Linked DNA regions of Homo sapiens. The protein of the gene in region 2 interacts with the protein of the main gene of each other region in a pairwise test. Each region holds a gene or a part of one and is shown on either strand. Other genes may lie near its edges.

Region 1 (3,653 bases), on a different chromosome or scaffold from region 2:
CCTTCTTCCCACTTTAGCAGCTTTGTAAGTTTAATTTTTAATGATCTCTGCTCATGCTGTCACGAGAAACACAAAATCATAAATGTTACTAAGCAACAACTGCAAGTGTAATTAATAGTAATTTTTTTCAAGTTAGCAACATGGTCCTTTGCAGGAATGTGTGACAGGAACAGCAGTGGCCTGAGGGGTCTGATGGGCCTTTCTAGCTATGTGATGTCTAGGCATGAATAGCACAATAAAACAGCAGTTGGGGAACTATAAGGAGCCTTTAAATTGACTTTTTTTTTCCTCTTCCCACAGAGATACTCTATTATAGCAAAGAAGAAAGATAATTTCATTGAGCCATCCTGTTTTACAGGTAAGGAAACCAAAGGCCATAGAAGACTTGCCTTATGTCATGAAGAAAGTTTATGTTAGAACTCAGGGCTCCCAATTCCACTGTTCTTTATTCTACACCTGGGTGGTCACAACTGAAAATGTTTTGCTTATTTCTAAACAGAAATCATTTTTTGACATGTTCATTTTAATGATGTGTCTATGCCTGGGGCTAATGTCATGAAAACAATGTGTCTGGTAAGGAGAAAACTGAAAAAGTCAGCATTAAAAAGACATTTAAGTCCATTTCAAATGCCTCCCATATGCAGACTCCACTTTATCTCCTCCAGTTCTCTAAAACCCTTCACTCCTTGGCTTTTTCTGGCTAATACACACATCTAGCTAAGAAAGCTCAACTTTTCTTTTTACTAGAGATGTTCTCTCTGTGTGTGTGTGTGTGTGTGCGCGCGCGCGTGTGCGCGCGCTCTGAGTTTATCCTACTTTTAAAAAGCTGAGTGGTGTTTTACACATTTTGGAATAGGCAGCTAGTGCTTCTTTTTCTGCTTTTGAAGTTTCCTGGGAAGTCCCTTAAAAGCATACCACAAAATTAATCTCTTCCTGTTTGCCAGAGGGTTGCTCTACTCTAAATTTGGCTCTACATCTACAAGCATGCTCTAGGAAGCCAATTAAAATGGATGAACAAGCAAAATGAAAACATACCTATGGACCAACCCAAGGTTACCGTCAGGTGGTGAAGGACTTCAGAATCACTTACCTGAAGCATTGTGTTTCTCAGCAGCAAAGAGTAGCATCCCCAGCCCTGACCCTAATTTTATTCCTACTTCTCAGTTCTGAGGCATGGACTTACAAAAAGACACATACATGCAATGGCCATCATGATATCCAAATAAGTAGGAAAAGGAACTGTGTTTCTGCCCATGAAGTTTTACTGAATTCAAAGGCAACCTACCTCCAGTCAATAGGTCAGAATGCAGAAATGGCTGAAAACTCTGGTATTGAAAAGCAAATGTTCTCCACTTTTGTAAGAAATAACATTTTCAACCACTAAGAGACTTTATTACCATCCCTAAACACACAAAAAAATTTCTTTTAGATTTACTCTCACTTTGCACGAATAGCAAACATGCTTAGAACTGCTTAGATTGCACAATGTTCTCAGATTAGGAAGGGAAAATTGGTTTGAATAAAATACAGATGTCTATTCCGCTAACAACTAAATCTTTGTGAATGTTCTGAGTCCTGTACCATCAAAGAAATAGATCGTCCATGGGGGTTTCTATTTCTGGTAGATTGTACTTACACACTGAATGAAAAAGCTTTCTCCTAATATTCCCAGTCCAAATAAAAACAACCCAAGGGGCACCTCTTATTTAGGTCAATAAAAGTTTGCAAATGTGGAATACTTTAGCCATCTACATCACACTGGTAGAGACTTTCTGTGATCAGCTATTTTTTAATACCATATTTAATCAAATCTAAGATACCATCATTGTGAAACTCGACATTTTATATATCACTAAGAAAGCAAAAATGCAGCCTGGGTGACCAGAGTGAAACTCCATCTCAAAAAAAAAAAAAAAAGAATTAATGAACTATAGTTTAATACATATTTACTAAGTGCCCACACTAACTACTTAAAAATGGTCCAAAATACTGAGGCATCTTAAGCTGTTGGAAAATTGTTTTGTTTTCACCACTACAGTAATGAGTCTTTGAATGATACCATTTTCTATACTTGGCTTCTAGTTTACTCTGCCTTTCACTGATCTTATCTTTTTATTAATAACTTTATGAGAAAAATAATTAATGCTTTATATATTGTTCTCTCAGTTCCATGAGCAAATATTTCAGAGGGAAAATTGGCATCTGAGTAAATATTACTTGGCTTTCATTCTGAAGCCCAAACATGGGTATTCCTCAAGCTGAGCATCTGCATAGAATTAGGAATTAACACAATGGTGACAAAGTCCAACCCCACATTGCAAGCCCTGCTCTCTGAGTGGCACTTCTGCAATTCTAACTAACTGTCTACTCACTTGTAAGGCCTTGAAGTTAAGTGGGTGCAACACCAAACTCAATACTTTTTGTTGGAACAGTGGTATCTCCTACCTTTTCTAACAATGGTTCCCTGATATTTTGGGCAACCCAGGCATAGGATAGAAATCCTGGAATCAAGTTTGACAATATATTTCCTGCATAGCCTTCCAATCCAGTCAGTAAAGATGTCCTGTTAATTTTTCCTTTAAAATATTTGTCCTGGCCATCCCTTTTTATCCATCCCACTGCCACCATCTTGGCTCAGCCCTCACCACCTCATTTTGTGACCACAACGTCCCGATGCTGTATCAGACACTCTTTCTGCTCCATTCAACTCTGATGACCACTTCCTGGGTAACCACCCTAATACTATTCTCTTACACAAAAACTGGCAATGGCATTTTTGTTCTATCTGCTCAAATCTAATGTCTTCTCTCTGATACTCAACTCTCTCCAACATCTGCCCTCACCCTTCTTAGCTAACTTTCTCAAACTACTCAATGCTTCATCACTTCTGCTCCGATCAGGACAGAGTCCTTGGAGTGCCGTACACATTACTGCCTCCTGACTTGTTCCATTCCTCTGACAAACTCCTCTCTCCCTCTCACTTGCTGCCAAAATCTTGCTTATCCTTCATGATCCAGTTCAAGCATCAAATCATGCATGCCCCTTTCTCTAATTACTCCAGCATACACTGCCTTCCTTCCCTAAAATTCCACATTACATCTTACGTAGTACTTGATTCCCTTCTCACTTGTTTTGTTTTGTTTTTTTCCCAAGACAGAGTCTTGCTCTGTCGCCCAGGCTGGAGTGCAATGGTGCAATCTCGGCTCACTGCAATCTCCACCTCCTGGGTTCAAGCAATTCTCCTGCCTCAGCAGGAGGTAGCTGGGATTACAGGCGCCCACCACCATGCCCGGCTAATTTTTGTATTTTTAGTAGAGACAGGGTTTCACCATGTTGGCCGAGCTGGCCTACTCACTTGTTAATTGTTAACCGTATTTGCTCATTCTAGTCAGTCTTCAGCTGAAAGGTAAGTTCTTTGAGGGAATGGATCATGTCTGAGCCCCCATAATGCTTAACAGAGAAAAATGTAATAGCAGTACTCAGTAAAAACTTACTGATAGGTTTATTAAACTAAGAGAAAAGACAGTTTGGATATAATTTTCGTAAGAAGCCTTTTCATTTGGAAAGATCAGTGAACCCATTGAAATTCTCAGGTAAATATAGGCTGTGCTAACCCCAAATTATAAACTCTAAGGCAGTGGTCCCAACCTTTT
Region 2 (3,653 bases):
TTCTCCTTGGAGTTAATAATAATCATTAGAAAAAAAATACAGGAAGAAATAACTTCCTCCTATTCTTATTGTGATAAATTGTAACAATAGCAGACATTCGTATATAGATCCTATAAGCGACAAGAGGGAAAATAGGATTTGCAAATTAAGCATCTGAATAAATATTTTAGAAAAAAATGTTTAGGATATCTGTTCTTTGTCTAAACTATTATTAATAATGGCAAAAACTCCTTTCTTACATGGTTTGGGAAAACAAACAAGCAAAGTGTATTTTAAGCCATAGCATGAAAGTTTCCACTCCTTCTCAAAGCAAACTGTATTTCACTTGCCTTAAATAATAAATATCTCTCCTAAATACATCATAAGACTGGACAAATTTGTGGAACAACTCCCCGCAGCTGGGCAGTTTGACATTAATATCAAATTTCCTGTTGTCGTTTCAGAATTGTCTATTTCACAGCAATATTACCAGTGACTTGAAAGCATTTACAGACAAGTTTGGTTTTGATGTCCTCATCCTGTTCTCCAGCTATCTGTCAGAGGAGCAGCAGCCGAGACGACAGATTGCTGTGTACTCAGAAAACATGGAGCTGTGCAGTCAGGTGAGCCCCTCCTCTGACCCCGTCATGTTCCCTCTGTCCTAACCTGCTGGCTCTCAGAACACACAGTGCAAGACAGAACAGATTGGTGGCTCATGAGCAATTAGCCCAAGAGGTAGAGTCCTAGAGGTTTGAGTTTTAGGAAATGATGGGGGTACTTTTTACATTTGGCCTTTTAAGAAAGCCCCAAAAGCATTTCTCTTCTTGACTGAATCCATAGTGCAAAACATTAGCTCTTTCTCATTCCCAAAAGAGCAAGTTCTCCTTTGGGTGCTATTTTCTTCTAGGACTGCTCCCTGATCATAACTGACAAGGTTTAGCCCCTGTCCCAGGACCGGTTTGGTGCCCAGTGTTTAAGACCTGGTGATCTGATGCTTTAATCAAAGTTAGTTTGTCTCCAGGTACCAGAACTCTGACTAGGTAATCAGTTATCCTCCAGGTTGATAGCTGAGTCTTTTAACCCAAGGCCTAGGAAATAAAAAAAAAAAAGAATTAGATAAATTAATCAAAATAGGCCATCGGATATACCAAGCCAGGTGTACTTAATAACTAATATGAGAACATACATGATTCATTATAATAGGAGCCACACGGGGCCCCAGATGCTTCATTACTTATTTCTCTTCACTAATGGATTCAATGCCTTATGTATCCATGGGTGGCTAGAGGCACAGTCTCTGCCCCTTTCTTTTCTACATCCTCCTTTCTGTCCCCCAAGAGCTCCACTGTAGCTCTCTTGACCCATGCCTATGGGTACTCTCGGGCTCTCTCAAGTCCGAATGTGAAAGAGCATCTCCTCCTCTGACCTGCATCACCAGCCTGTGGTTTTTTCATCACTTTCCTCTGCATTTGGTTTCAAAGCTAAATTTCATCTTTGGTCACTGGCTTCCCAGGGACGGGATTTAGGCCTTGGAAGCCTACAACATGGCGGCTTTCACATCACTTTTAGCAGTAGACCCCTTTTTCAAACCAATGTGAAAATTGGTTCATTGGAAACAGACAAAAGTAGAAGAGCAGATGAAGGAGTTAAAAGCTCTTGAGTTGACCCCAGTCCTCCTCTCTTCTCCCCACCCACCCTCCCCATCCTAGCAATAGCCAGAGGTGGATCGCTGGAATCTTAAGCAACAGAGTCCTGGCTCTGGCCTAGCGAGTTCCTCTTGGCCTGTGTGGTCACACCACTGGCCGAGTCAGCCTTTGCAGCTAGGTTGCCTGGGTACAGAACTCAGGCTCCAGCACTTGTTAGCTGTGTGTTGCTGGACAAGTTATTTAATCTTCCTGTATCTTCATTTCTTCATGGGTAAAATAGGAATAAAAAGAGTTCCTACCTTGTGGAATTACTGTGGTGATTAAAAGAGATAATGATCATAAAACCCTTAGAACCATGCCTGGCACATGAAAGCACTCAATAAATGTTAATTAGTAGTAGTAGTAGTATCTATGTGAGCTCCATGGTGGTAGTGGTGGTTGTTATTATTATTATTAATTTTATCTCTACTAATCCCGTGGGGCCATTTCAAAGGCCCAGCACAACAAAATACTCCTGACATTCCTTAAAAATCAGAAAGCCGTAACCCAGTTCTGGCCTCACACTGACCATCCGTCAGTGTCCCCTTGCCTCCCAGGTTAGCTTTGCCTGTTTTGGGCTCCATGCCTCCGTTACCTGGGGTGAAAGGGACTGAGGGGTCCTGAGTGCTGTTCGGAAAGATCAGACTGCGGGAGCATCTTTGTCTTTCCTACTCTCTCTTTTGCATTCTGAAGCTATCAGAGGTTCAAGCAGCCCTGGCTGCCCCCTCCCAAACAACAGCCTGTCTCCTGATATTGTCCCCTTATTCCAACACTTTTCCTATAGTTGTCAGCAACATGCATTATCTCTGCTTTTTTGCAACTCGAATTACATTGCTATTGGAAGATGGTATTATATTACAGTTAGGAAAGAATAGGTGGTTTAAACTCCTTTACCCAAACGTTCAGGAGCCTTCAAAATCGAGCACCTGGATTTTGAATTAAACAGAGAGACAGTTGGATAGAATTGGAGAAAGGGTTGGTGGTACAGTAATCAGAACTTTCTAAGTTTGAGATCTTCTTTTTCAGACAGATGAACACAGATTAATTTTATATTTAAAAATTAAGCGAGATAAATTGCAAAGTGCAATTGCAAAGTGCAACAGTGCTTGAGTGCTGACACAAATTCCTGTGCCTTCCGACAGATTTGCTGTGAGCTGGAAGAGTGTCAGAACCCTTGCCTAGAACTGGAGCCCTTTGACTGTGGCTGTGATGAGATCCTGGTGTACCAACAAGAGGACCCTTCAGTGACTTGTGATCAGGTGGTTCTCGTTGTCAAGGAAGTCATCAACAGGAGGTGTCCAGAGATGGTCTCCAATAGCCGGACATCCTCAACAGAAGCCGTGGCAGGCAGTGCCCCCCTCTCCCAGGGGTCTTCTGGGATTATGGAATTGTATGGTTCTGACATAGAGCCACAACCCAGCTCTGTGAATTTCATAGAGAACCCTCCAGATCTCAATGATTCTAACCAGGCTCAGGTGGATGCCAATGTAGACCTTGTTAGCCCAGACAGCGGACTGGCTACCATTAGGAGCAGCCGCTCATCCAAGGAGAGCTCTGTTTTCCTCAGTGACGACAGCCCCGTGGGAGAAGGTGCTGGGCCTCACCACACCCTTCTCCCAGGGCTTGACTCCTACAGCCCCATCCCTGAAGGGGCGGTGGCGGAGGAACATGCATGGTCTGGAGAACACGGTGAGCACTTCGACCTCTTCAATTTTGACCCAGCACCCATGGCTTCTGGGCAGTCCCAGCAATCTTCTCATTCTGCAGACTACTCCCCAGCAGATGACTTCTTCCCCAACAGTGACCTGTCAGAAGGACAGCTCCCCGCTGGGCCTGAAGGACTTGATGGCATGGGAACCAACATGTCTAATTATTCATCCAGTTCACTTTTGTCAGGGGCTGGCAAAGATAGCCTTGTGGAACATGATGAGGAGTTTGTCCAGAGACAAGACAGTCCCAGAGATAACTCTGAAAGAAATTTGAGCCTGA

Evidence for each region.
Region 1: the proteins of PRUNE2 (region 2) and BDNF interact in binary tests that used the Homo sapiens proteins (3 or more experiments, as listed by UniProt).

What each region holds. Positions count from the first base shown.
Region 1 is NC_000011.10:27,658,871-27,662,523, forward strand, and holds part of BDNF (neurotrophic factor BDNF precursor form isoform a preproprotein), read right to left. Parts: intron 1,403-3,653; exon of another isoform or gene 1,286-1,402; intron 789-1,285; exon of another isoform or gene 1-788. UniProt on the Homo sapiens protein: Important signaling molecule that activates signaling cascades downstream of NTRK2. During development, promotes the survival and differentiation of selected neuronal populations of the peripheral and central nervous systems.
Region 2 is NC_000009.12:76,710,512-76,714,164, reverse strand, and holds part of PRUNE2 (protein prune homolog 2), read left to right. Parts: intron 1-443; coding exon 444-602; intron 603-2,806; coding exon 2,807-3,653. UniProt on the Homo sapiens protein: May play an important role in regulating differentiation, survival and aggressiveness of the tumor cells.